Homo sapiens: one gene and its partner. The protein of the gene in region 1 interacts with the protein of each later gene in a biochemical or structural test. Each region holds a gene or a part of one and is shown in the gene's direction. Other genes may lie near its edges.

Region 1 (3,649 bases):
CAAAGCATAGCACTCAGAGCAGCAGCATCGGCATCACTTGGGAGATTCTAAGAGATGCAGATTCTCCAGCATCCACTCTGGACTGATTCAGTAAAACTGGAAACACTGGGTGTGTGGGTGGGGGTGGTGAGGTTTCAAGTGCTCCAGGTGATCCTGATTTGAGGCGCTTACTGCTTCCAGCTACTCCTTTCATTGGAGTATTATTACAGTATTATGCTTTTCTTTATTTTTAATTGTTAAAATTTCTTTATTTCTTTTTTTTGAGACGGAGTCTTTCTCTGTTGCTCAGCTCTGTCACCCAGGCTGGAGTGCAGTGGTGCAATCTCTGCTCACTGCAACCTCTGCCTCCTGGGTTCAAGTGATTCTCCTGCCCCAGTCTCTCAAGTAGCTGGGACTATAGGCGTGCACCCTCACACCCAGCTAATTTTTGTATTTTTGGTAGAGATGGGGTTGCACCATGTTGGCCAGGCTGGTCTTGAACTCCTGACCTCAGGTGATCTGCCCGCCTTGGCCTCCAAAAATGCTGGGATTACAGGCATGAGCCACTGTGCCTGGGCCAGTTTGAGGGATTTTAAAGTCTGAGGCCTCATAGTGAGAAAATAATAATAATCATCATCTGAGGAATGCGGAGTCCTTTTAAATTATCAGGCCCAGAGAGACATTAAAATGACACAGCAGTCACCTCGTAGTTCCCACCCCCTTGAGCTATTTACTTATCACTCGAAAGTACTTCATATTGCCACATAGCTACAGATTAACCTAACAGTGCCCCAAGGACACTGTAATCCACAGCTCAGGAGTTTGAGCTCCAGCGATCTGCCTGCCTCGGCCTCCCAAAGTGCTGGGATTACAGGCATGAACCACCACACTGGGTCTGTAGTAAATTCTTGAGTTATATTTTGTGCCTTAGCCTCCTGCTTTTAGGTCAGTATTTGTGTACCCTTCCCACTGCCAGTGGAAAGCTGAAATGAGCCCATCCAGGAAGTGGCTGCCTGGAGACAGGGCCCACCTTGTAGGGAAAAACTGCTTTTTCACCTTCTTGTTGAGTGTTTGCTTTTCTTCTCAAATATCATCTGCTTTCTGAACTTGTGAACTGGCAGCTGCCTACCTAAATGATGCCAATAACTGGCTTACTGACTTTTATTCAAAGTATTTTCCCGGGATTTTGGTGTATTTATAGCATAATTTGGACTTGGAGTCTAAAAGGAGTCATGCATTATGGCTGTTGGCAATTGTGGATTTTTAAAGGTAGTATTTTCACCTATTTCTTTCTTTTTTCTTTCTTTTTTTTTTTTATGAGACAGAGTTTTAGCTCTGTTGCCAGGCTGGCCGTGGTGTGATCTCGGCTCACTGCAACCTCCGCCTCCAGGGTTCAAGTGATTCTCCTGCTTCAGACTCCCAAGTAGCTGGGATTACAAGTGCCCACCACCATACCTGGCTAATTTTCATGTTTTTAGTAGAGACAGGGTTTCACCATGTTGGCCAGGCTGGTCTCGAACTCCTGACCTCAGGTGATACACCTGCATCGGCCTCCCAAAGTGCTGGGATTACAGGTGTGAGCCACTGTGCCTGGCCTTCCATTTTCTTTTAGCTATTGTTTCATTTCTAACAATAAAGGCAGCTAGAATTTCTTTTGGTATTTGATATGAGATAGTCCCCATTTTTTCCCCAAACAGCTCGTTTTCCCCATTATCATTTATTGAATAATTCCTCCTCTTTCCCGTTAGTGGAAATAAGTGGCATAGCCTATGAACTGTGGCCAGCTGGGCACAAGATGGGTCAATCCCTGAGACTCTCCTAGGAATTGTCCTGCTGCCCCCTGGTGCCCGGCAGGCACTTTGCATTCCTCTGCCCACACCTGATCCAGAGGTGATCTGGGGTCAGCAGCAGGGTGGAGGCTAACAACGAAGGACTTTTCCCTAAATATGGGCATTGAGAGGGATCTCCAGATGCATCTGGCCCACAGAAAGTGGTTAAATCCTTGCTCCCCTGTTGCTGGCCATATCTCAGTGGGTGAAGTGTCATCTTGCAAAGCCTGTGCTGCTGTGGAAACTGCCACTGGTGACCAGACAGACTCTCTGGAGACCTGCCCTAGAGAGCTGATGACATGACTATAGAAGCAAACACAAGTGGCTGAGGGCAGGGGATGGCTTAGAGAGGAAGGGTGTGTGAGGCCCTCAGTCAATGCATCAAATGTTTAATTTTATATTTTCTTTTTCTATAATAAAAAAAATATTTTTCTTGTAGAGATGAGGTCTCACTATGTTGCCCAGGCTGGTCTCAAAATCCTGGGCTCAAGCAGTCCTCCTGCCTTGGTTTTCCCAAGCGTTGGGATTACAGGAATGAGCCACTATTCCTGGCCATTTAATTTTGTGTTTTTGTGTGTGTGTGTGTGTGTGTGTGTGTGTGTGTGTGTGTGTGTGTGTGTTTTGAGACAGGGTCTTGCTCTGTTGCCCAGGTGGGAGTGCAGTGATGCAATCATGGCTCATTGTAGCCTCAAATTCCTAGGCTTAAGTGATCCTTCCAGCTCAGCCTCCCAAGTAGCTGAGCTACAGGTGCACGCCACCACACCTAGCTAAAGTGTTTTTTTTTTTTTTTTTTGACGGAGTCTCACTGTCACCCAGGCTGGAGTGCAGTGGTGTGATCTCAGCTCACTGCAACCTCTGCCTCCTGGGTTCAAGTGATTCTCCTGCCTCAGCCTCCCAAGTAGCTGGGACTACAGGTGCCTGCCACTATGCCCAACTAATTTTTTTGTGTGTTTTTAGTAGAAATGGGGTTTCAGTATGTTGGCCAGGCTGGTCTTGAACTCCTGACCTTGTGATCCGCCCTCCTTGGCCTCCCAAAGTGCTGGGATTACAAGCATGAGCCACCGCACCTGGACACCTAGCTAATTTTTTGAGGGGCGGGGGACGGAGTCTTGCTCTGTTGCCCAGTCTGGAGTGCGGTGGCGTGATCTTGGGTCACTACAATCTCTGCCTCCAGGGTTCAAGTGATTCTCCTGTCTCAGCCTCCTGAGTAGCTGGGACTACAAGCGCACGCCACTGCATCCAGCTAATTTTTGTATTTTCAGTAGAGATGGGATTTCATCATGTTGACCAGGATGGTCTTGATCTTCTGACCTTGTGATCTACCCACCTCGGCCTCCCAAAGTGCTGGGATTACGGGGGCGAGCCACTGTGCCTGGCCAGTAATTTTTATTAATACATTTTTGGTAGAGACCAGGTCTCGCTGTGTTGCCCATGTTGGTCTTAAACTCTTGGCTTCAAGTGATTCTCCCGCCTTGGCCTCCCAAAGTGCTGACATTGCAGGTGTGAGTCACTGTGGCCGGCCAAATAGTAAATTTCTGTGTCTGCAGAATCACAGTCTCTTGGGGTTGAGCATCCTGAAATCTGCATTTTTTAAAGCATTATTTCCTGGTTGATTCAGATGCTGAGATTTGGGAGCCACGTTTCTCAGGTCTTTCTCAGTCTTTGGTGTCCAATTCTACTTGATCGGTGTCTGGGAGGCCAAGGTTACTGCCTTGATCCTCTGCGGTTTAGATTATTCATTTAGCAAACATTTGAGTGCCTTATTTTTATTTTATTTTTTGTTTTTAATTTTTTAATTTTTGAGATGGAGTTTCACTCTTGTTGCCCAAGCTGGAGTGCAG
Region 2 (3,649 bases), on another chromosome or scaffold:
CCAGTCGAGAGACAGAAACTGTACCGTTCAGATAAACAGAGAAATTTTGGTATAGAGAATTAGACCAGGCACGGTGGCTCATGCCTGTAATCCCAACACTTTGGGAGGCTAAGGCAGGAGGATGGCTTGAGCCCAGGAGTTCGAGACCAGCCTGGGCAACGTGGGAAAACCTGGTCTCTATGAAAAAATACAAAAATTAGCTGGGCACAGTGGCATGCACCTGAAGTCCCAGCTGCTCGGGCAGCTGAGGCAGAAGGATTGCTTGAGCCTGGGAGGTGGAGGCTGCAGTGAGCTATGATCATGCCACTGCACTCCAGCCTGGGTGACAGAGTGAGACCCTGCCTTAAAAAAAAAAATTAGAATTAGACAGCAGGCAGAGTTTTCTTAGTGGGACAGTTGCACAAGTCATTTTCCCCTCCTTGATCTCCTTTCTCAGCTGTGAAATGGGTCAATAATTAATATCTACCATGCAGGCCGGGCGCAGTGGCTCACGCCTGTAATTCCAGCACTTTGGGAGGCCGAGGCGGGCGGATCACTAGGTCAGGAGATTGAGACCATCCTGGCTAACACGCTGAAATCCCGTCTCTACTAAAAATGCAAAAAAAAGTTAGCCAGGCGTGGTGGCGGGCGCCTGTAGTCCCAGCTACTCGGGAGGCTGAGACAGGAGAATGGCGTGAACCCGGGAGGCGGAGTTTGCAGTGAGCCAAGATCATGCCACTGCACTCCAGCCTGGGTGATAGAGCGAGACTCCGTCTCAAAAAAATAAATAAATAAATATCTACCATGCAAAAGGATCAAGTGGGTTAATAGGTTTGCTTGCCTTTGCCATGGGCTTAACAAACCGATGCATAACACATACGAACTTGATTCCTCCATTTCCCCCCTTGTCTTCCTCCCAGGCTTTAAGCTTTCCAAGAGCCAGGGCTGAGTCTGACAGTTTTTCCTCAGCCTCTGCCGCCTTGGCCTCCTGATATGCCCGTCTAGCATTTGGTGGTGAATGTCAGATCCGTGTCTAGGCTGTGAGCACCTCAAGGGTGGGGGTTGAGTCTGATTACTTGCTCTGTTCCAGGACCCCAGCAAACAGCAGGCCTAGTTCCATCTTTGTTGAGTGAGTGAATGAATGAATGAAAATGAGTGAATGAATGATGGGGTCAGCCCTCTTGGATTTCCACCAAGACTGTGCACAGTGCCTGGCTCAGAGCATTCAACAGGTGTTTGCTTGTTTCAACAGACTGAATGACTCAACCAATGAATGAATGACTCGAACAAATGAATTTTGACTGACTCAACCCCACATCCTCCATCCTCATCCTTTCCATGCACGTTCCTTGAGCACCTACTATGTGCACAGCACCAGGCCTTGGGGATGTGAGATGAATCAGACACAGCATCTGGCCTGGGGAGGGCGAGGGCGGGGTTGGGGGGGGTGGGAGTTCACAGTCTGGTGAGGAGGCAGACGTGTAAGCAAATCATGGCTACGACATGAGATAAGTGCTAGGATGCCGTTAAATGCGAGTTTCTCTTGGTGCCCAGGGGAGGGAGCCATCAACTCTGACTTGCACACCTTCTCAGCTTTGTAAGAGTAGGATGAGGAGCAGGTGACCTTAGGGGCTGTGCTCTGGCCCTGTGCCCCCAGTGTGGGTGTTGGGGCTGTGAAAACATGCAAAAAGCCAGGCGCGGTGCCTCACACCTGTAATCCCAGCACTTTGGGAGGCTGAAGCAGGCGGATCACGAGGTCAGGAGTTCAAGACAAGTCTGGCCAAGATGGTGAAACCCTGTCTCTACTAAAAAGACAAAAATTAGCCAGGCATGGTGGCGGGCACCTGTAATCCCAGCTACTTGGGAGGCTGAGGCAGAGAATTGCCTGAACTCAGGAAGCAGAGGTTGTAGTGAGCTGAGATCGCGCCATTGCACTCCAGCCTGGGTAACAGAGTGAGACTCCATCTCAAAAGAAAAGAAAAGAAAAGAAAAGAAAAGAAAAGAAAAGAAAAGAAAAGAAAAGAAAAGAAAAGAAAAGAAAAGAAAAGAAAAGAAAAACACGCAAAAGTACACATGGCAGGAGTTAACAGTCTAGTTGGCCAGCAGCACGGGCATACACAGACTCACATGCACACACACACTCCCAAACACACCCAGAACACACACTGGGCTAACTCTGCTGCCCGATGTGTGACTTTGGCAGTCAGAGTCGTCCATTCATAGGAGATAGGTGAACCATAGGATCAGAAGGCCAGGTGCACAGGAGGATTGCTTGAGCCCAAAAGGTGGAGGCTGCAGTGAGCCGAGATCACGCCACTGCACTCCAGCCTGGCAACAGAGCGAGACTCTGTCTCAAAAAAAAAAAAAAAGGAAGAAGAAGGCCAGGTTGTTGGAATCCTAACTGCTCCACTAACTGGTTGTGTGGCCCTGGGCGTAGCATCTGCCCTCTCTGAACCTGTCCTGTAACATAGGCCCATACAAACCCCTTGGTGGATTTGTCATGTGGAAGGGGTAAGATCAAGGAGGTGCTTGGGAAATGGTGGTTAAATTAGCATCAGAGGGCGCTGGGGTAGAGTTGAGCTGGAGGCCAAGTTGGGTTTGGCCAGGCCAAGATAAAAGGGAGAGGACACTCCTTCTACCGAATAGTCCCTGTGGGTCCAGCATTAATCCAGGTGGTGGGTGCCACAGGCAAAATCATGCCCCTGTACAACTTATGGTGTAGAGGAGAAGAGACACTACTGAGACAAATAACAGGAAATGGAATTTCAGTGAGACGGGGTTACGAAGAAAATGAGTTAACATTGGCTTAGAGTGCCTGGCACATACATCAGTGTGGTACTAAAAAATAAAGCAAAGGGTTGAGCACGGTGGCTCATGCCTGTTATCCCAGCACTTTGGGAAGCCAAGGCAGGCGGATCACCTGAGGTTGGGAGTTCGAGACCAGCCTGGACAACATGGGGAAACCCTGTCTCTACTAAAAATACAAAAATTAGCCAGACATGGTGGTGGGTGCCTGTAATCTCAGCTACTTGGGAGGCTGAGGCAGGAGAATCGCTTGAACCTGGGAGGCAGAGGTTGCAGTGAGCCGAGATCGTGTCACTGCACTCCAGCCTGGGTGACAAGAGCGAAACTCCATCTCAAAAAAATTTTAAAAATAAATAAATAAATAAAAATAAAGCAAGGAAGAGGACAAGGGTTTTTTTTTTAGACAGGATGGCCAGAGAAGACCTCTCTGAAGAGGCGGCATTTGTGCAAAAGCCTGAACGAAGTGAGGAAGCAAGCTATGCTGAGATCTAGCGGGAAAGGATTCCAAGCAGAGGGAGCAGCCGTGCAAAGGTCCTGGGGCATTAGTGTGCTGTCAGAGGAAGGAGGTGGCCAGTGTGGCTGCAGCCTGGGAGCAAGGGCAGGTGGTAGAAGATGAAGTTGGTGAGGGTCAGGGTGGGGAGTGGCAGGGCAGGCAGCTCAGGTTAGCTCAGCTAACCCTAACCCTCCTAGGCCGTGGCATGGACTTTGTGCTTAGCCCAAAAAGTGATGATGGGTGCCATGTGATTGACACCGGTGAGAAATTGATCTGAATGTAGAAGGCATCCCTGTCCCCACTGGCCCAGTCCTGCCCCCACCCTTTCCTCCACAATGTGTGTCCCCTTCCTTCTGGGCCTGGCAGAAAGTG

The links. Proteins that work in one complex are often made in the same cells at the same time.
Region 2: the proteins of ABCC4 (region 1) and SHANK1 interact in a test that uses a peptide from one of them, tested with the Homo sapiens proteins (one large-scale study listed by IntAct).

The regions. Positions count from the first base shown.
Region 1 is NC_000013.11:95,294,915-95,298,563, reverse strand, and holds part of ABCC4 (ATP-binding cassette sub-family C member 4), read left to right. Parts: intron 1-3,649. UniProt on the Homo sapiens protein: ATP-dependent transporter of the ATP-binding cassette (ABC) family that actively extrudes physiological compounds and xenobiotics from cells.
Region 2 is NC_000019.10:50,706,264-50,709,912, reverse strand, and holds part of SHANK1 (SH3 and multiple ankyrin repeat domains protein 1), read left to right. Parts: intron 1-3,649. UniProt on the Homo sapiens protein: Seems to be an adapter protein in the postsynaptic density (PSD) of excitatory synapses that interconnects receptors of the postsynaptic membrane including NMDA-type and metabotropic glutamate receptors via complexes with GKAP/PSD-95 and Homer, respectively, and the actin-based cytoskeleton.